3 linked regions of the Homo sapiens genome follow. The protein of the gene in region 1 interacts with the protein of each later gene in a pairwise test. Each region holds a gene or a part of one and is shown in the gene's direction. Other genes may lie near its edges.

The links. Proteins that work in one complex are often made in the same cells at the same time.
Region 2: the proteins of CRCP (region 1) and LRIF1 interact in binary tests that used the Homo sapiens proteins (3 or more experiments, as listed by UniProt).
Region 3: the proteins of CRCP (region 1) and ZMIZ2 interact in binary tests that used the Homo sapiens proteins (3 or more experiments, as listed by UniProt).

Annotation. Positions count from the first base shown.
Region 1 is NC_000007.14:66,131,824-66,138,848, forward strand, and holds part of CRCP (DNA-directed RNA polymerase III subunit RPC9), read left to right. Parts: intron 1-2,456; coding exon 2,457-2,551; intron 2,552-7,025. UniProt on the Homo sapiens protein: DNA-dependent RNA polymerase catalyzes the transcription of DNA into RNA using the four ribonucleoside triphosphates as substrates.
Region 2 is NC_000001.11:110,946,923-110,953,947, reverse strand, and holds the end of LRIF1 (ligand-dependent nuclear receptor-interacting factor 1), read left to right. Parts: intron 1-1,132; coding exon 1,133-2,660; intron 2,661-3,824; coding exon 3,825-4,097; intron 4,098-5,548; coding exon 5,549-5,989; 3' UTR 5,990-6,758; downstream 6,759-7,025. UniProt on the Homo sapiens protein: Together with SMCHD1, involved in chromosome X inactivation in females by promoting the compaction of heterochromatin.
Region 3 is NC_000007.14:44,751,822-44,758,846, forward strand, and holds part of ZMIZ2 (zinc finger MIZ domain-containing protein 2), read left to right. Parts: intron 1-4,366; 5' UTR 4,367-4,428; coding exon 4,429-4,478; intron 4,479-4,603; coding exon 4,604-4,718; intron 4,719-5,125; coding exon 5,126-5,328; intron 5,329-5,556; coding exon 5,557-5,740; intron 5,741-6,026; coding exon 6,027-6,287; intron 6,288-7,025. UniProt on the Homo sapiens protein: Increases ligand-dependent transcriptional activity of AR and other nuclear hormone receptors.

The DNA of each region.
Region 1 (7,025 bases):
ATGGCGCAACCTCGGCTCACCTCTGGCTCCCGGGTTCAAGCGATTCTCCTGCCTCAGCCTCCCGAGTAGCTGGGATTACAGGCATGCACCACCTTGCCCGGCTAATTTTGTATTTTTAGTAGAGACAGGGTTTCTCCATGTTGGTCAGGCGGGTATCAAACTCCCGACCTCATGTGATCCGCCCACCTCTGGCTCCCAAAGTGCTGGGATTACAGGCGTGAGCCACCGTGCCCAGCCATTTTTCTCTTACATAAAAGTTGTAGAGACAGTGCTGGGAGTTCTCATGTACCCTTCCCATAGTTTTCTCTGATGTTAATATCTTACATAACCATGGTACAGTGATCAAAACCAAGAAATTAACATTGGTACATACTATTAAGCTAAACTTAAATTTTATTTGAATGCCCTGTTTTCCCATTGCTGTCTTCTGGGTTCCAGGATTCAGTTCAGGATACCATTTTGTATTTAGTTAACATGTCCCCATAATGTCATTCAATCTATATCCTTACTCTTCCTTTGTCTTCCATGACCTTGACACTTCCAAAGTCTCGTCAAGTATTTTGTAGAATGTCTGTTGATTTGTGATTGCCTGATGTTTTATTATGATTACACAAAACCTATGGCTTTTGAGGAAGAGTACCACAGAGGTAATCTCCCCTTCTCGTGTCCTGATTTCTGGGGGTACATGATATTGATGTTTCTTATGGGTGATGTTGTTAACTTTGGTCATTTCGTTAAGATGGTATCTGCCTGGTTTCTCCACTGTAAATCTACTGTTTCTTCATTTCCACATTATGTTAGAAAGGATTTGGCTGGGCGTGGTGGCTCACACTTGTAATCCCAGCACTTTGGGAGGCCGAGGCAGGCGGATCACAAGGTCAGGAGATCGAGACCACGGTGAAACCCCATCTCTACTAAAAAGAAAAAATACAAAAAATTAGCCGGGCGTAGTGGCGGGCGCCTGTAGTCCCAGCTACTCAGAGAGGCTGAGGCAGGAGAATGGCGTGAACCTGGGAGGTGGAGCTTGCAGTGAGCCGAGATTGCGCCACTGCACTCCAGCCTGGGCGACAGAGCAAGACTCTGTCTCAAATAAATAAATAAATAAATAAATAAGATGAAAGGACTTACCAAGTTTAGCCCATATTCAAGGGGAAGCGGGGCGGGGGGATTAAGCTTCACCTCTTGAAGGGAGGGATATCGAAGAATTTGTGGTTGTATGTTAAAACCACCACAGTAATTAAAAAATATTTTGTGGGAGATGCTTTGCGGCTAGGAAAACAGCCTACCCTTTGCTTAAGCTTTTAACCATCAATTTTAGCATTTATTGGTGGGTCTTTCCTGCAGTAGTTATGACTATGGTACAATTGCCTAAGAGTGATTTAAAAATTTTTCTCATTCTTGGCCGGGTGCGGTGTCTCATGCCTATAATCCCAGCACTTTCGGAGGCCGAGGCGGGTGGATCACGAGGTCAGGAGATCGAGACCATCCTGGCTAACACGGTGAAACCTCGTCTCTACTAAAAATACAAAAAGAAATTAGCCGGGCGTGGTGGCAGGCGCCTGTAGTCCCAGCTACTTGGGAGGCTGAAGCAGGAGAATGGTGTGAACCCAGGAGGCGGAGCTTGCAGTGAGCCGAGATCGTGCCGCTGCACTCCAGCCTGCAGTGAGCCGAGATCGTGCCGCTGCACTCCAGCCTGGGTGACAGTGAGACTCCGTCTCAAAAAAAAAAAAAAAAAGAAAAAGTTGTCTCTTCTTACCCGTTTATCTATTCAGTCGTATATATCCATGTAGACTCATGGCAATTTATTTTATTCTTTGGGTTCCCCCTCTTTAAAAAAATTGTTCAAAATATAACACAATTGTCAGATTGAGGGTTTTTTTTTTTTGAGATCAGAAAAGTTTTCTCCTAAAATTTCATTAGTTATTCTTCCTCTTCTAGCTACTGGTTTTCTCTTTCAGAAATTCCAATTACACGAAGATTGGTTCTCCTGAATGCCTTTTTGTTTTATACAGGATTTTTTTTCTTTTTTGTTTTCTTTTTTTTTTTTTTTTTTGAGACAGAGTCTCACTCTGTCACCCAGGCTGGAGTGCCATGGTGTGATCTCGGCTCACTGCAACCTCTGCCTCCCAGGTTCAAGTGTTTCTCCTGCCTCAGCCTCCCTAGTAGCTGGGATTACAGGCGTGCACCTCCACACCCAGCTAATTTTTTGTATTTTTGGTAGAGATGGGGTTTCACCATGGTGGCCAGGCTGGTCTCGAACTCCTGACCTCAGGTGATTTGGCCACCTCGGCCTCCCAAAGTGCTGGGATTACAGGTGTGAGCCACCGTGCCCAGCCTCTACAGGATTTTTACAAACAAAATTTTAGAATTTTAATTACAGTCATTGCCTTTGTTTTTTCTCATTCAGGGTTCTTTGTCTTATGCTTGGCTTTTTTCTTTTTTTTTTTTTTTGCCAGACGTTAAAATACATATCAAAAACACCATGCAGGCACCAGAGTCCTGAAATTGTCAGAGAATTTCTCACAGCATTGAAAAGCCACAAGTTGACCAAGTAAGTAAATCTCTTAAGTAGGAAGAGCGTGACACATGGTGAAATGATAGTTGCTACATTCGTAGCAACCGTGTATTGATATTCGGCTGGGTTTGGATTTAAAGAAGGATTATAGTATTGGAGATGAAACAACTGAAAGTTAGACATAGGGACTAGAGTAAGGAACAAATCTTTTTTTTTTTTTTTTTATAAATGAAGAAAGTTCATTTATCCTAGTGATACTGTATTACTCTGCCTGCTTATTCTGCAAAATTAGCAGAGATTAATTTACATTCTCAAAAAAGACGGGTGAGGGGAAATGGAAATGCTTCATGGAAAAGAAGGCAAATTTAGGTCATAGGTAGAGATCTCAATCAAATGGGCCAAAATACAGTTTATTTATATCTGCTAACTCCCAACTGCTAGCATCTGACCACAGCATAACAAGCTTGGAATCGGGGAACCTGGGCTGTAGTCCAGTTTCTGCCCCTTATAGCACCATGACCTTGGAAAAGGTATTTGACCTCTCTGAGTTTCATTATCCTTACCACTGAATAAGGATCATCTGCTAAACTCACAAGGCTGGGGAAAGGGTGAAGGGTGGTGTCTTCATGGAAACAATATGTGTAGATGTCCTTTTTGGACTCCAGAAGCCATAAATGATGCAACCTTATTTATTAACCATTAATGTGAACAGGGCCAACCATTTCTATGTTATTAACACTGCTTCTTCCCTAATGATTCAATTCAGATAAACCTTACAAAGCACTTCACACCAAGAGCTGAGTATCAGGGCCACTTGGTTCTTACAGACGCAGTGCCTCCAAGCCAAAATTGGTAGAACCAATAGTTCTACTCTTAAAGCAGGACCTCTCTAGCCTCCCATTATCTAGATGAAAATGAGCTTACTAATTTAGAAACACAAGTGAGTATATTCTAGGCTAACCAAAGTAATTCTTCTCTAATTATTGAGAACATTAAATGTCACGAGCTGATCTCAAAATATTAGTAAAATAAGTTAAATTGTTTTGAAAGGAAGGAAATGTGATAATGTAGAAATGGGGAAAAAACAAGACAGAATTGAAATATTATATTAATCAAGTACTAACCCTGGTTTGAATGGGTAAATGCAGAAGACCTTTCTTCCTTCTTTTTTTATTTATTTATCTTTTTTTTCAAAATTATACTTTAAGTTCTAGGGTACATGTGCACAACGTGCAAGTTTGTTACATATGTATACATGTGCCATGAGGAACAAATCTTAATGGGGTTTAAAAATCTTTTCTTGGCCAGGTGTGGCGGCTCATGCCTGTAATCCCAGCACTTTGGGAGGCTGAGGTGGGTGGATCACCTGAGGTTGGGAGTTCTAACCAGCCTGACCAACATGGAGAAACCCCATCTCTACTAAAAATACAAAATTAGCTGGGCGTGCTGGCACATGCCTGTAATCCCAACTACTAGGGAGGCTGAGGCAGGAGAATCGCTTGAACCTGGGAGACGGAGGTTGCGGTGAGCCAAGATCGCGCCCTTGCGCTCCAGCCTGGACAACAAGAGCAAAACTCTGTCTCAAAAAAAAAAAAAAATCTTTTCTTGGAGTCCCAGTTTGTATGACATATCGCATCAACCCCACTCCCAGAATTCAGACCAAATTGGATGAAAAGTAGGGTTGACAAGTTAAAGTACTTTTTATAAAGTTGATCAGTGAAGTCTTTTGACATTTGTGTTTGCTTGAGGCAAAAGTGGCTTGATCATCTTCTGTGAGTTCTTGTAGTTTCCAGTTCCTTTTCTTGGTCTGGAATGAGTTCAACCTTTTAAAATTGAAAACGTCATACATCAAGAGTTTACATGAGAAGAAAACTAGCCCGTTTTTTTTTTATTGGTTTGTTTTTTTTTGAGATGGAGTTTCACTCTTGTGAGTTCATGCTGGAGTGCAATGGTGCAATCTCGGCTCACCGCAACCTCTGCCTTCGGGTTCAAGTGATTCCTCCTGCCTCAGCCTCCACAGTAGCTGGGATTACAGGCATCTGCCACCACACCTGGCTAGTTTTGTATTTTTAGTAGAGACGTGGTTTCTCCATGTTGATCAGGCTGGTCTCGAACTCCCAACCTCAGGTGATCCATCCACCTCGACCTCTCAAAGTTCTGGGATTACAGGTGTGAGTCACCGTGCCTGGCCAATTTTGTATTTTTAGTAGAGATGGGGTTTCACTCTATTGGCCAGGCTGGTCTTGAACTCCTGACCTCAGGTGATCCTCCTGCTTTGGCTGCCCAAAGTGCTAGCATTTCAGGTGTGAGCCACCGTGCCTGGCCTATGTATACATTTTTGAATTGACTTGTTGATATCTGGAACAAATCCTGCTGAGATTCTGATTGGGATTGCCTTACATCTATAGGTCAGTTTTGGGGGAGAATTGACATCTTGACAATATTAATAATTCAAGATCGGACGGGCACGGTGGCTCACACCTATAATCCCAGCACTTTGGGAGGCTGAGGCAGGTGGATCACGAGGTCAGGAGTTCAAGACCATCCTGGCCAACATGGTGAAACCCCGTCTCTACTAAAAATACAAAAAATTAGCCGGGTGTGGTGACGGGGGCGCCTGTAGTCCCAGCTACTCGGGAGGCTGAGGCAGGAGAATCACTTGAACCTGGGAGATGGAGGTTGCAGTGAGCCGAGATTGCGCCACTGCACTCCAGCCTGGCGACAGAGCGAGACTGTCTCAAAAAAAAATTTAATAATAATAATAATTTAAGATCAGTCAAAGGTTAAAAAAAAACAACCCGCCAATACTGAACCTTCTAGTCCATGAAAACAGTGTAGCATACAGGTTCTGCACAAATTTTTTTAGATTTATACCTATTTCATAATTTTGCGTGCTATTGTAAATGGTGCTCATTTCTAGTTGTTGATTGCTGATATAGAAGTACAGCTGACTTTATATTGATCTTATGCCCTCCAGCCTTGATAAATCCACTTATTAGTTCTAGGAACTTTTTTAGTGTATTCTTTAGGATTTTCTGTGCAGAAAGTCGTGGTATTTGCAAACAGAGTTTTACTTCTTTCTCATCTGTATGGCTTTTCCTTCTTTTTCTTATTTCATTGCCCTGGCTGGGGCCTCCAGGATGATGTTGAGTAGGAGTGGTGAGAGCAGACATCCTCATCTTGTCCCTGATATTAAGGGAAAACAGTCAGTCCTTCACCATTAAGTATGATGCTAGTTTAGGTTTTCCATGAATGTCTTTTACCAGGTTTAGGAAGTTCAGATTGCTGAGATTGGATGTTGAATGTTGTCACTTGCTTTTTCTATATCTATAAAGCTAAAAAGATTTGTAGCCTTTTGGCTGTATCTTTTTGTTTATTTTTGTTTTTAGTAGTTACTGAAGGGATCCCTACTAGGTTACTAGTAGGGTTAATAATATGCATGCCTGACCATTTATAGTCCAGAGTTAATATTTTACCAGTTGGTGTATATAAGTCTCTTTACCTTCTTTTTGTGTTATGGTTGTATTTATAACATATAATCTACATACATTGAAACATATAATCTGCATACTATTAGTAGTGTTTTTACATTGACTTTCTGTATTCTTACATATTTTAAAGAACTTAAGAGAACAAAAATAGTCTTTTTGTCATCATTTCTTTTCCTCTCTATTCCTGAAGTGCCCTGCGTCCTTTTTATCATTTACTTCACCAGGAAGAACTGCCTTTGGCACTTTTCTGAGAACAGGTCTCTTGGCTACAAATTCTCTTATTTTCATTTAGCTGAGAATGTCATTATTTCCTTTCATTCCTGAAGGATAATTTCACTGGGTTGATTGATCTTTTCCTTCAGAACTTTTAAGATGTCATTTCAGTGACTTCTGGCTGTCACAGTTTTTGATTAGAAATCTGTGATCAGGCTGGATGCAGTGGCTCATGCCTATTATCTCAGCACTTTGGGAGGCTGAGGCGGGAAGATCACTTGAGGCCAGGAGTTTGAGACCAGCTTGGGCATCATTGTGAGACTCCATCTCTATATTTTGAAAAATAATTAATTAAAAAAAAATTTTAATCCGCTATCACTCTAACCCTAATGTGTCATTTTCCTCTGGCTGCTGTTAAGATTTTTTTTATCCCCCTCTACTCCTACTGCTTCACTTCACTAGCCTGGGCGCGGTGGCTCACGCCTGTAATCCCAGCACTTTGGGAGGCCGAGGCTGGCAGATCACGAGGTCAGGAGATCGAGACCATCCTGGCTAACACGGTGAAACCTCGTCTCTACTAAAAAAAAAAAAAAAAAAAAAAATCAGCTGGGCATGGTGGCGGGCGCCTGTAGTCCCAGCTACTCGGGAGGCTGAGATAGGAGAATGGCGTGAACCCGGGAGGCAGAGCTTGCAGTGAGCCAAGATGCGCCACTGCACTCCGGCCTGGGGGACAGAGCGAGACTCCGTCTCAAAAAAAAAAAAAAATTTAAATAAATTTCAAAAAAGATTTTCAAGTCTTTGGTCTT
Region 2 (7,025 bases), on another chromosome or scaffold:
AATATATGATGACAATCTATGATATATACCATGAAGGAAGCTAACAAGCATAATGTTATGGATTAATTATGAAGGAAAGACAAGGATAAAGTGGTCAGAAAATGTATCTCTTGAGAAATATCATTTATGCCAAGACTTGAGCTATGTGAAGAGTTGAGTTGGGTGAGGCGTACCTAGGTAGAGTGATAGTATGTGTGACATGAAAGCTCAATATTTCCCAGGAGCTGAAAAATGTTTTAGATATAAATAAGGTAAGGTATTTACATTCAAGTAATCTCCAAATAACTAATTATGCAAACAGAGATTAGTATATATTGATTTTTCTTAAGATTAGACAGTCTATACTAAGAAATAATTCAAGGCATGGGGGTCAGAATTGATTCAGTTAAAAAAAATTGATTTCCAGTCTGTTCCACATTGATTGAAAACCATTCAGCTGAAATTGCAGTGGTATTATATGTATGGGTTGATAGGTGATTGACAATTGACTAATATAAATAATTGCTATACCAGAGACTATGTAGCACTAAACCTCAAATGTGCTGAAACAGTAATCAGAAGAAAATGATTCCTATGTAAACAGTTCAGTGAAATCTATAGCACAAAAATGTGGCAAACTAAGGTAACACCATGAGAGATAGCTTAGGCAAAAGAAGAATGGCTGGCAGAACTTGTGAGTTATTGAAGGAAGAAGACAGAACAGATTGAGGGGGAAAAGAGAGAAATGGAATAAGAGTAAGGGGAGAGGGAATGAGAATCTTCAGTTAGAGTAGAGGAGGAGGACAAGAGGAAGGAATTCAGGGAAAGGGGGAAGGGAGGATGCTAATATTTTAAGAGGAGCTTACTTTAGTAGTATAATTTTATATAGGGCAAAACCTTAGAAATGTCTACTTTTAGTCTTAGGAATAAATGTTATTATCTCATACCCATTGCCTAATCATATAAGCAGTTGACTATATCATTATCTCTTCTACTTCAAAATATTTGTTTTGCAGTCTTTCACTTTAAAAACTCAAAATGGAAAATTATATACTTTATTTTAATATTTACAAATATTTACAAATATTTATTTTTAAATAAAATGTATATACCATGTAGTATGTTGTATTTATTTACTCAATGTTCTTTTAAGTGTTTCAGGCTGCATGTACCAAGTAGTTCAGACGATTGGCTCGGATGGAAAAAATCTTCTGCAATTACTTCCAATTCCTAAGTCTTCTGGAAATCTTATACCACTAGTTCAATCTTCAGTCATGTCTGATGCTTTGAAAGGGAATACAGGAAAACCAGTTCAAGTTACTTTTCAGACTCAGATTTCCAGCTCTTCCACAAGTGCATCAGTTCAATTGCCCATTTTTCAGCCAGCCAGTTCTTCAAACTATTTTCTTACAAGAACAGTAGATACATCAGAAAAAGGTAGAGTTACTTCTGTGGGAACTGGAAATTTTTCTTCATCAGTTTCTAAAGTTCAGAGTCATGGTGTGAAAATTGATGGACTCACCATGCAAACATTTGCTGTTCCTCCCTCAACACAAAAAGACTCATCTTTTATTGTAGTTAATACCCAGAGTCTTCCAGTGACTGTGAAGTCTCCAGTTTTGCCTTCTGGGCATCATTTACAGATTCCAGCCCATGCTGAAGTGAAATCTGTACCAGCGTCATCATTGCCTCCTTCAGTGCAGCAAAAGATACTTGCAACTGCCACCACCAGTACCTCAGGAATGGTTGAGGCCTCCCAAATGCCAACCGTTATTTATGTATCTCCTGTAAATACAGTGAAAAATGTAGTTACCAAGAACTTTCAAAACATTTACCCAAAACCTGTTACAGAAATAGCAAAGCCAGTAATACTAAATACCACACAAATTCCAAAGAATGTTGCTACAGAGACACAATTGAAAGGTGGTCAGCATTCTCAAGCTGCTCCAGTGAAATGGATTTTCCAAGATAATCTACAGCCTTTTACGCCATCTCTTGTTCCTGTTAAGTCTTCAAATAATGTGGCTTCAAAGATTTTAAAAACTTTTGTAGATAGGAAAAATTTGGGAGATAATACTATAAATATGCCACCATTGAGTACCATCGATCCTAGTGGGACGCGATCCAAAAATATGCCTATTAAAGATAATGCTTTGGTTATGTTTAATGGGAAAGTCTATCTGTTGGCTAAAAAGGGGACAGATGTTCTGCCATCACAAATTGACCAACAGAATTCTGTTTCTCCTGATACTCCAGTAAGAAAAGACACGTTACAGACAGTGAGTTCAAGTCCAGTCACAGAAATATCCAGAGAGGTTGTAAATATTGTTTTGGCTAAAAGTAAATCTTCCCAGATGGAGACAAAATCACTTTCCAATACCCAGCTTGCTTCCATGGCCAATCTAAGGGCAGAGAAGAATAAAGTGGAGAAACCATCTCCTTCTACCACAAATCCACATATGAACCAATCCAGTAACTACTTAAAACAGAGTAAGACTTTATTCACAAATCCAATCTTTCCAGTTGGATTTAGTACAGGACACAATGCCCCCAGAAAAGTAACAGCCGTCATTTATGCTAGAAAAGGAAGTGTCCTCCAGAGCATAGAGAAAATAAGTTCCTCTGTTGATGCAACAACTGTTACTTCACAACAGTGTGTTTTCAGAGACCAAGAACCAAAGGTAATTTTCCCATGTCAGGGTGCTCTTTTTATATATCTATATAGAAAAGTTTGTTTTCTTAATTCTCAAAGTTATCTATGATACCTCTTTCCCCCACTGCCAACCCCATCACACACAGACTATACACATATGAGTATTTAAGTCAAAACTTCCATCTGAGCAAATTTGAGGAGGAGTACAGTTGGGTACAATCTTGTACAAAGGAGTACAGTCTTTCTCTTGAATCACTTGGCATGCCAAATCTTTAAAACAAAAAATTCACAGAGCAAAAAGGTTTAGAAGAGTTGGGGAAGGATAATGTGAATTCAAAGCTTAGTAAAAATATGTGAGTATATGTATATACATACATGTATATATGTATGTTCATATATAATAGCCTTTTTAGTATATGAGGAGATCAATATGCATGTAAAAGAGTTGGTTTTGGGGTTTTGTGGGGTTTTTTTGTGGTGGTGGTGGTGGTATACCATGGAAAAGGTGAGACAGGGCTAATCAATACCTTTCAGTAATTTGTGGAAATAAGATTTTATCAGCATCTTTGATGGGTTGATTTTTTTTTTGGTAGACAAATTTCATTTTCCTTTTTATTAGCTCTTTGTGACTCCTCAGCCAGTTACCCAACATGCCCACATAGTTACCTTTATGTTCGACTTAAGGTTTGTCTGTCTGTGTGCTTACTAGATATTTGTACCCATCTTTTCCTTGCTTACTTAGAGGTCTACTCAATAATGTCAGCATTTCTCCCCTTCAGTACAGAATTCATTGAACTCCAGAGATGTAAGGAGGTAAATTCTGATTGTTCAATACAAGATCGATTAAAGGCATGTGTGACTTTTCCAGAAGACTACAATTTCTAAATAATGTCATATATGTTATTTTAACGTTGTCATTAGTCTGTATTCTCATTTTAGTTGTTTTAGAATTGACTACTTATTACCTTTCTAGTGCAACAAATTAATTGAGAAATTGTAGGGGGGAATATTTTAAGTTTGTACTTCCTTATATTCAGTTTTTTGAGTGTGGGTGGTAAGGCAAGGATAATACAAACCAATCATAAAGCATGATATGTTCTTTTATGTAAGATGAAATAATCACTTAGTTGCTTAATAAAGTAACTTGAATAATTAGCAGTATTGTTTGTGTGTTTTCTTTTCCTAATTCCAGATCCATAATGAGATGGCATCAACATCAGATAAAGGTGCCCAAGGAAGAAATGACAAGAAAGATTCTCAAGGAAGAAGTAATAAGGCATTACATCTGAAGAGTGATGCTGAATTTAAAAAGATATTTGGCCTTACTAAGGATTTGAGAGTGTGCCTTACTCGAATTCCTGACCATTTGACCTCTGGAGAAGGTTTCGATTCCTTTAGCAGTTTGGTAAAGAGTGGTACTTACAAAGAGACAGAGTTTATGGTGAAGGAAGGAGAGAGAAAACAGGTAGGTAATACATTTTAATGTGCTCTTCATAGGTACTACAAATGATACATGAATATTACTTTTCTTGATTTGGTTTTAACCCTTGTGCATTAGTATAAATGATGGTTGTTACTGGTTTTGCAAATACATAATACCAAAATGATATTTAAAACAACCAGGCCCCAGCACTTTGGAAGGCTGAGGCGGGTGGATCACCTGAGGTCAGGAATACAAGACCAGCCTGACCAACATGATGAAACCCCGTCTCTACTAAAAATACAAAAATTAGCTGGGCCTGGTGGTGGTTGCCTGTAATCCCAGCTACTCAGGAGGCTGAGGCAGGAGAATCACTTGAACCCGGGAGGCGGAGTTTGTAGTGAACCGAGATCGCACCATTGCACTCCAGCCCAGGCGACAGGGCAGGACTCCATCTCAAAAAAAAAAAAAAGAACCAGGCCAGGTGCAGTGGCTCACGCCTGTAATCCCAGCACTTTGGGAGGCTGAGGCGGGCGGATCACGAGGTCAAGAGATCGAGACCATCTTGGCCAACATGGTGAAACCCCGTCTCTACTAAAAATACAAAAAATTAGCTGGGTGAGGTAGCACGCACCTGTAGTCCCAACTACTTGGGAAGCTGAGGGCAGGAGAATCGCTTGAACCCGGAAGGCAGAGGTTGCAGTGAGCTGAGATCGCACCACTGCACTCCAGTCTGGCAACAGAACGAAACTCTGTCTCAAAAAAAAAATTATATATATATAAACACCGCCCACCCCACACACACACACGCACAGGTAAAAATGCATCCCAGTTAAAGATATGTTTTAATTTTTTTTATTCACCTACTACATTTTTTTCCCATTATGTTACAAGAAAATGGCCATAGCTTTTTAACTAGTCATCCTACTTTGAGGACTCTATCTAAAGGAAATAATTCAAATGTAGTAGAAGATATAAGCATGCATATGTTCTTAATAATAACCTTTTAAGCAACTTATATAGCTAATAATGATAAAAAGAAATGTCTATAACTTTGCCTACTGTTATACTTTGACTTATGAGTATGTCATTATCATGTAATATTCTGAACTTTAGATCAGAGACTAGTAAACCTTTTCGAATGAAAATCCTCCATATGTGCCTGCTGTGCAAAGGAAAAGAAAAAAACAATCAATTTTATATCTCAGGCACTTTACAAGTGCTATTATATTTCTGTGGTGAGTCAGTATGCCTTCTAATACTTGACTTGAGCAAGAAAATGTGAATTAGGCAATTTCTTCTTACTGAATATGATTAAGACATTTTGGTACCATACAGTGGGAAATATTTCCCTCTTGCTGTAGTTGTCTTCCATAAATTTTGTTAATTGTAATAGCTAGATATTTGTTTCTGCAGACGTTGTTAAGTTTGGTAGTACCCGGTGCATTTAGCAGTAACATTTCGTTTTTGTTTTGGAATGTTATTCAATATTGCAGCAGAATTTTGATAAGAAAAGAAAAGCAAAAACTAATAAGAAGATGGATCACATAAAGAAGAGAAAAACAGAGAATGCTTATAACGCAATCATAAATGGGGAAGCTAATGTCACCGGTTCCCAACTCCTAAGCAGTATTTTACCAACTTCAGATGTGTCACAACATAACATTCTCACGAGTCACAGCAAAACCAGACAAGAAAAGAGAACTGAGATGGAATACTATACCCATGAGAAGCAAGAGAAAGGCACTTTGAATTCAAATGCAGCTTATGAACAAAGTCATTTCTTCAATAAAAATTATACCGAAGATATTTTCCCAGTGACACCACCGGAGTTAGAAGAAACCATTCGAGATGAAAAAATAAGAAGACTTAAGCAGGTGCTGAGAGAGAAAGAAGCAGCTCTTGAAGAAATGCGTAAGAAGATGCACCAAAAATAAAATCTCCTGTAAAGACTTCAGTGAAATAGCTGTTTTTTAAAATATACTTCAGCATTAATAAGTTAATTGTAGGTGTGTTCTGAAAGTGTCTTTGAATATGAAGCTTGTTTTTTCATCAGTCGATTGTACAACTTTAAGGAATACAGAAAAGGTTGATTCACATATGACTTGTGAATAATTTACATGGGGTATCTATACCTTTGTCTTAGATACCTTTTTTTGGAAGGATAAATTTTATATTTTTCTATTATTTTAACTAGAATTCTCCAAGTTTGAATATTTGGGCAGGGTTTTTGTTATTGTTTGTATCTTTACCTAAATTGCTCAGGCATTATTCCAGCAGTAGATAGTGACTGTGTATTACTGAAATTTTACAATTCAAGAGAGGAAATCAGCTCCAAACTTAGCTTTTCCAGTGGATTTGTATATGTACTTGCTTTATCTCTTTACCCTTAAAATGATGATACCTTGTATTCACCATTGTTTTTTTTAATGTCGTGAAATAATATGTATTATGGCAACATTATTTAAACATTCAAACATTTCTCAAGAATGAGCAACATTTGTAACTTTACAATGTAATTTTATATAATCCAAAGGTATTTTAGAATTCAGGCCATTTGATGTTTTGTTTGCTTATAGTGATGTGTTCCCAGGCAAATGCTGCTTTTTTTTTTTTTGGGACTATGTACATACGTTACTGAGATTGTGTAAAAAGTAGATCCTGAACAGTTATCACATTTAATATTTCTTAAACTGTAAAAGTGTATTTTCTCTGTCTGGTTAATCTTTGATTTGGGAAAGTTTGGGAATGGTGTAGGGATAGGGATTAAGAGATGGGGAGTTAGCTGAGCGTGGTGGTGTGTTTGTAGTCCCAGCTACTCAGGAGTCTGAGTGGGGAGGACTGCTTGAGCCCAGGAGTTTGAGGCCAGCCTGGGCAGCACAGTGAGACCCTGTCTCTTAAAGGAGGAGGAGGAGAACAATGTTATTAAAAAATGATCAGGCCGGGTGCAGTGGCTCACATCTGTAATCCCAG
Region 3 (7,025 bases), about 21 Mb from region 1:
CTATGGTGGTGTACACCTGTAGTCCAGTTACTCAGGAGGCTGAGGCAGGAGAATCGCTTGAACCTGGGAGGTGGAGGTTGCAGTGAGCCTAGATCGTGCCACTGCACTCCAGCCTCGGTGAAAGAGCAAGATTCCATCTCAAAAAGAAAAAAAAAAAATTAAAGATTCATGTGCATTATAAGAAATGACACAGAGAGATTTATTCTGTCCTTTACCCAGTTTGCCCCAATGGTAACATCTTGGAAAACTAGTACAACATTGCACCAGGACACTACACTGATACAGTAAAGAGGTTACAGCCTGTTGCCTTCTATTTTTTTTTTTTGAGATGGAGTTTCACTCTTGCTGCCCAGGCTGGAGTGCAATGGTGCGATCGGCTCACTGCAACCTCCACCTCCTGGGTTCAAATGATTCTCCTGCCTCAGCCTCCTGAGTAGCTGGGATTACAGGCGCCCACCACTACGCCCGGTTAGTTTTTGCCCAGCTAATTCTTATGTTTTTAGTAGAGTTGGGGTTTCACCATGTTGGCCAGGCTGGTCTCGAACTCCTGACCTCAAATGATCTGCCCACTTCAGCCTCCCAAAGTGCTGGGATTACAGGCGTGAGCCACCGTGCCCAGCCTGTTGCCTTCTTATATTCACGCCCACCTTCCTCCTGCCAAAATTACAGAAATGGAGAAGAGATTAGTACCTTTCTCTTTACCCCCACATTTAACCCCTGGCAATCACCAATCTGTTCTCCATTTCCCTAATTTTGGTGTGTCAAGAATGCTAAATAAAGGAATCGTACACCGTGTAGCCTCTTGGGATTGGCTTTTTCCACCGAGCATTAATTCTCTGGAGATTCATCCAGGTTGTTGCATATATCAGTAGTTCATTCCTTTATATTGCATCCGGGCTATGGATGTACCACCGTTGATTTAACTCTTCATCCATTGAAGGACATCTGGGCTGTTTCCATTCCATAGCTCTTGCAAATAAAGCAGTTATAAACATTTGTGTACAGGTTTTTATGTGAACATAAGTTTTCATTTCTCTGAGATAAATGCGTACAAGTGCAGTTGCTGGGTCATAGTAGGGTAGCTGCTTGCTTAGTTCCATATGATACGGCCAGACTGTTTCCCAGAGTGGCTGTACATTTTACATTCCCACTAGTAATGTGTGAGAGATCCAGTTTCTCCTTGCCAGCATTTAGTGATGTCACTATTTTTTATTTTAGCCATTCTGATGGATGTATAGTGATATCTCACTGTGGTTTTAATTTGCATTTCCCCACTGACTAGTGATGCTGAGCATCTTTTCTTATGCTTATTTGCCATCTGTATATTCTCTTTGGCAAAGTGTCTCTTTATGTTTTTTGCTTATTTTCTAATTGGAGTTTTTAATTTTAATTTTTTTTTTTTTTAGTTTTGAGAATTCTTTTTTTGTTTTGTTTTGTTTTTTAAATCATGGTTCACTCTGTCATCCAGGCTAGAGTACAGTGGCATGATCATGTCTCACCCCAGCCTCCACCTTCTGGGGTCAAGTGATCCCTCCACTGCAGCCTCCTGAAAAGCTGGGACCACAGGTGCATGCCACCACGCCCAGCTAATTTTTAAATTTCTTGAGGAGTCGGGGGTCTCACTCTGTTGCCCAGACTGATCTTGAACTCCTGGGCTCAAGCAGTCCTCCTGCCTCGGCCTCCCAAAGTGCTGGGATTATAAGTGTGAGCCACTGTGCCTGGCTGAGAATTCTTTATATGTTCTAGATACTAGTCCTTTGTTGGATATGCAGCTTGCAAATATTTCTCCTGGCCTGTAACTTATCTTTTCATCCTCTTAGCAGGGCCTTTCCCGAAGGAAAAATTTTAATTTTGATGAAGTCCAGTTTATCAGTTTTTTTCTTTTATGGATCATGCCTTTGGTATCAGGTCTAAGAGCTCTTTGGCCTAGATCACAAAGATTTTCTCCTATATATTTTCCTGAATATTTTATAGATTTATGTTTTACAGTTAAATCTATAAACCATTTTGAGTTACTTTCTGTATAAGGTGTGAAGTTTAGGTGTTTTTTGTTTGTTGTTTTGATGCCCAGTTGCTCCATTGTCCCAGCACCATTGGTTGGAAAGGCTGTCCTTCCTCCTTTGAATTGCTCTCGCACCTTTGTCAGACATTGTTTGGGCCTATTTGTGCAAATCAATTTCAGATTCTCTGGTCTCGCCTGTTGGCCCATGGTTCTGTTCCCATGTTGGTACCACACAGTTTTGATTACCATATCTATATTCTAAGTCCTAAAATCTGTGTATGGCTGCTCAAGGCCCCACCCAGCAGTTCTGGGGAGGAGTTTCTGGCTGTTGGCAGGTTCCTCTGTCCCCCAACATCACTATTCCTGAGTCAGGCTATGGGACTGGGATTGCCACCCCTACCTTGCCTGGCTGGGCCATCTCAGCTCCCAGGCCTGTTCTTGCCTAGAGTCCAGGTGCCTGGAGCCTTCTGGAGCCATCAGCCCCTGGTTTTCTTCACCCCTGCTTCCTGGGCAGGACTTGGTCTGGGGGAGCAAGGGGAGGAGCCTATGGGCTGGGAATCAAGTCTTGCCTCCCCTGAGGGTGTGAGGAAGTCCAGAACACTGCCCTCTCCCTCTTCCCTAATTGGTACCCCCCAGTCCCAGTGCTCGGTGATGGGAAGATCCAGTGAAAGGCCACATGCTTAGACTCCCCAGGCAGAGCTCAGCTCTACTTCTCACCTGCTCTGGGGCCCTGGGCACACAGCTCGCCCTCAGAATCTCCAGGTCTATATTTTGAGGGGTGAGGCTGTTCCTACCTCCATTGGTGAGGCCCTCGGTCAGCACAAGAAATGGCAGCCTAGATGAATGCGGGGCCACCCTCTCCTGGGGCAGGGAGAGGCCATGTGAGTGCTGCGATGGCAGGATGGCACCAGTGGTCAGCACGCCTCAGGTGGCATGTCTGTGTGTGTGGCAGCCTTGTAGGCCCTAAAAGGGAGTAGTATCCAAGGCGAGCATGCCTGGGGACTCCTGAGAAACAGCTGAAGCGGCCTCTCCTGTGCTGCAGCCAGTGTTCCTCTGTGGATAGCCTAGGCAGGCAGAGGTGGACATGTCAGGTGGTCCTGGGAGTGTCAGAACCCAGGGTAGTGCCAGTGAGGGCCCTTCAGGGACACTCAGGGGCAGGGCTCCAGGGCATGTCTGGGCCTGCTTTGGTAAGGGGCTTGCTTGTGGCAGTGTCGGAAGGCGTGGCACTCAGAAGCAGCCTGAAGGTGTGGTCACTTCCGTGGCTTATTTACTAAATGGGGAGAGCAAACTTAGCGTGGCACATGTAAGTCCCATGGTGCCAGCACTGTGGTCCTGCATGCGTCCTCCCTGACACACCCCCTCTGCTGCCCTGTCCTGAGCACCAGGTCACTGGTATCCACTCAGCCCCATCTTGCAGAGTCACTTCAATGTCTCCCCAGCCCCTTTCTTAGAAACACTGGCCAAGTCACAGTCCCTGCCAGGTCTGTGGGTGCCCACCCTCCATCTATTGTGCTGTGTGTCCCTGCCCTCTCCTGGGGGTGTCATGGATGGGCCAGTGGGTCTGCCTGCCTGGCCCCTAGGACCATATCAGCCTCGGGCAGCCCCCACTTGGTGGAATCTGGGTCAGTTCTGAGGTGCCCTGGCCTGGAGCCCTTCTACTACCCTAAAGAGGGCCTTCTTGTTGGGAGGGGCTGCTAGCCAGAGCCCAGGTTACTGGCCCCACACCCCATTTCAGGAGGTATCCTGCATGTCCCTCCCCAAGGCCAGGATGGAGAGTTGTTGGTTGACCACTGCACTCCTGTGATCACCGCACCCCTGCACTCTCCTCCTCGGCTTTCTCAGCCCCTGGCCTCCAGAACCGCCTATGCCCCTACCTGGGCTACTCAGGGTAGACAAGACCTTTAGCAGGGAGTCCCCTCACCTCCACTGCCCTCTGTCCTTCACCCCAGGGCCTTCTGTGGGGTTACTGGCTACTGGCTCCTCTCTAAACCCCAGTTTCCACGGGGTAGCTAGGATTGTCCCTGGCTTTATAAGGATAGCCAGGCCTCGGTGTGGGCGGGAGAGTGGGGAAAGTATTTGGAATCGGGAAGTCCATCTCTAGGGCTGATCCAGGGACTCTGGGTGGCAGGGCCTGGTCAGAAAGGGTTCATGCTGGCCTCCAGGCTGTATTTGTGGGGGCAGATCCTCACCAGAGTGAGTGGGGTGGGTCAGTACTAGGCCCCTCCACTGCCTTGCCTGCCATCAGAGCCCAGGGGTCCCTTATTGAGAAAGAGGTGGGGCCTGCTGGCACCGGGGTCCCTCCACCCTGCTGAAAGGGTCTCCTGGCTGCATCGCAGCTAACATCCCTTCCTTCCTGTCGGGCAGCCAGAGCAGCTGAGTTCCAGATAAAAACTGTCAGACCCGGCCTGTAGGCTGCTCCATTGCCAATGAACTCCATGAACCCCATGAAACCTGCCCTGCCCCCTGCGCCACACGGGTGAGTGTGGGCTCCTCTGCCCACCCCTCAGGCCCTGGGGTTGGGGGTGGCATTTCTGGAAGATCCTAGACTCTTGGACACCAGTGGCTTCCTGACCCAGGCCTCAGCAGCCTCTTTCCCTGCAGTGATGGTTCATTCGCATATGAGTCTGTGCCTTGGCAACAAAGCGCCACTCAGCCGGCTGGATCGCTGTCTGTGGTCACTACTGTGTGGGGAGTTGGCAACGCGACACAGAGCCAGGTAAGCACCCACTGGTGCCCCACCCCCGAGCAGACAGAGCCTCCCAGCACTTGGCAGTGCTTAGTGCCTCCTCAGAGCTCTGAGAGACGAAGAGGCTGAGAGGTGAGGACAGAGAGGCTGAGGCATGACATATGAGGATGGGGCCTCCTGAGTCCCCTAAGTCTTTGGACACTGGTTCTCTTTCCACACCTGCTGTGGGATTTTCTTCTCCTGTCTTCACCTAGCCTTCACAAAATGCCCCAACCTCCCTGTGGACAGCTGCTTTCCCTGCTTCCCGTGCTATACCCTGTCCCCCCCACCTCTCCCCCAACCCACTTGCCAGGCCTGTTGGTTTCTAGCACTTTGGAGCTGCTGCATGAAGCACGTTGTTTGGCTGGTTCCCTTTGGTGATTCCTGCTTCCTCATAGGTTTTGGGGAACCCCATGGGCCCTGCAGGGAGTCCCTCTGGCAGCTCCATGATGCCTGGTGTGGCAGGGGGCAGCTCCGCCTTGACCTCCCCACAGTGCCTGGGACAGCAGGCGTTTGCTGAAGGCGGCGCCAACAAGGGCTACGTGCAGCAAGGCGTGTACAGCCGCGGGGGCTACCCTGGGGCCCCCGGCTTCACCACCGGGTAAGCAAGTTCCCTCACCTGGCAGGTATGCTAGGAGCCATCAATCTGGCAGGCACCTCAGAACTGTGGCGCTGATCAGCTGGACGTTCCCTCTCTGCTTCCTGACAGCTGTAGTGGAGGGTCTAGAAAGAATGGGCTCCCCCTGGGTGCTGCATGCCTCTGGGGTGAGCACAGTCCTGGCCCTCATGAGCCCACGCAGAGAGCGTGGCAATCCTGTGTCTCCTGCAGGTATGCAGGCGGCCCGGGGGGCCTGGGCCTCCCCTCACATGCTGCAAGACCCTCCACTGACTTCACGCAAGCGGCAGCTGCTGCAGCTGTGGCTGCTGCGGCAGCCACTGCCACCGCCACAGCCACAGCCACCGTGGCTGCTCTCCAGGAGAAGCAGAGCCAGGAGCTGAGCCAGTATGGAGCGGTGAGCCCCCTCAGCAGCTCCTCCCACATGGCAGCCAGCCTGAGGGCCTGGGAGGAGGTACTCAGCCAGACAGTGGGCTCCAGGGACAAGCATGGAATATGCCAGGGCTCATGAAGCCAGTAAAAGAGAGATGTGTGGGAAGGAGTGAGGGTCTGAGGGGAGAGGTTTCTGGGGTGTCCTGTGAAAGGGTATGGTGCCCACATGGGTGGGTGGGCGGGTTTTATGCCTATCTTTTGGAGCCCTTTGTGGGTGGGACCTGGACCATTCTTCTTTTTTCTCTTCCTAGATGGGGGCCGGACAGTCTTTTAACAGCCAGTTTCTGCAGCATGGAGGTCCCCGGGGGCCTAGTGTCCCCGCTGGCATGAACCCTACTGGCATAGGAGGGGTAATGGGCCCCTCTGGCCTCTCCCCCTTGGCTATGAACCCCACCCGGGCAGCAGGAATGACACCCTTGTATGCAGGGCAGCGTCTGCCCCAACATGGGTATCCTGGGCCTCCCCAGGCCCAGCCACTGCCCCGACAGGGGGTCAAGAGAACCTACTCTGAGGTGAGTGTCCAGGTCACCTAGTTTGGGGCCTTGGGTACCAACTCCCTCACCCAGGCACTCTTTAGAGCTGTGGTAAAGAGCAGGCTTCTGGCTGGGCATGGTGGCTCACGCCTGTAGTCCCTGCACTTTGGGAAACCAAGGAGGGTGGATCCCTTGAGCTCAGGAGTTTGAGACCAGCCTGGGCAACATGGCGAAACCGTGTCTCTACAAAAATTAGCCTGGTGTGGTGGCATGTGGCTGTAGTCATAGCTACTTGGGAGGCAGAGGTGGGAGGATCGCCTGAACCCAGAAAGTTGAGGGTGCAGTTAGCTGTGATCGCTCCCCTGCACTTCAGGCTGGGCAACAGGAGTGAGACCCTGTTTCAAAAAAAAAAAAAAAAAGCAAAAGCCGGGCATGCTGTCTCATGCCTGTAATCCCAACACTTTGGGAGGCTGAGGCAGGTGGATCACTTGAGATCAGGAGTTCAAGACCAGCCTGGCCAATGTGGTGAAACCGCATGTCTACTAATAATAGAAAAAATTAGGCCGGGCGCGGTGGCTCACGCCTGTAATCTCAGCACTTTGGGAGGCCAAGGCGGGTGGATCACGAGGTCAGGAGTTGAAGACCAGCCTGGCCAGCATGGTGAAACCCCATCTCTAATAAAAATACAAAAAGCATTAGCCGGGTGTGGTGGCGGGCGCCTGCAGTCCCAGCTACTTGGGAGGCTGAGGCAGGAGAATTGCTTGAACCCAGCAGGCA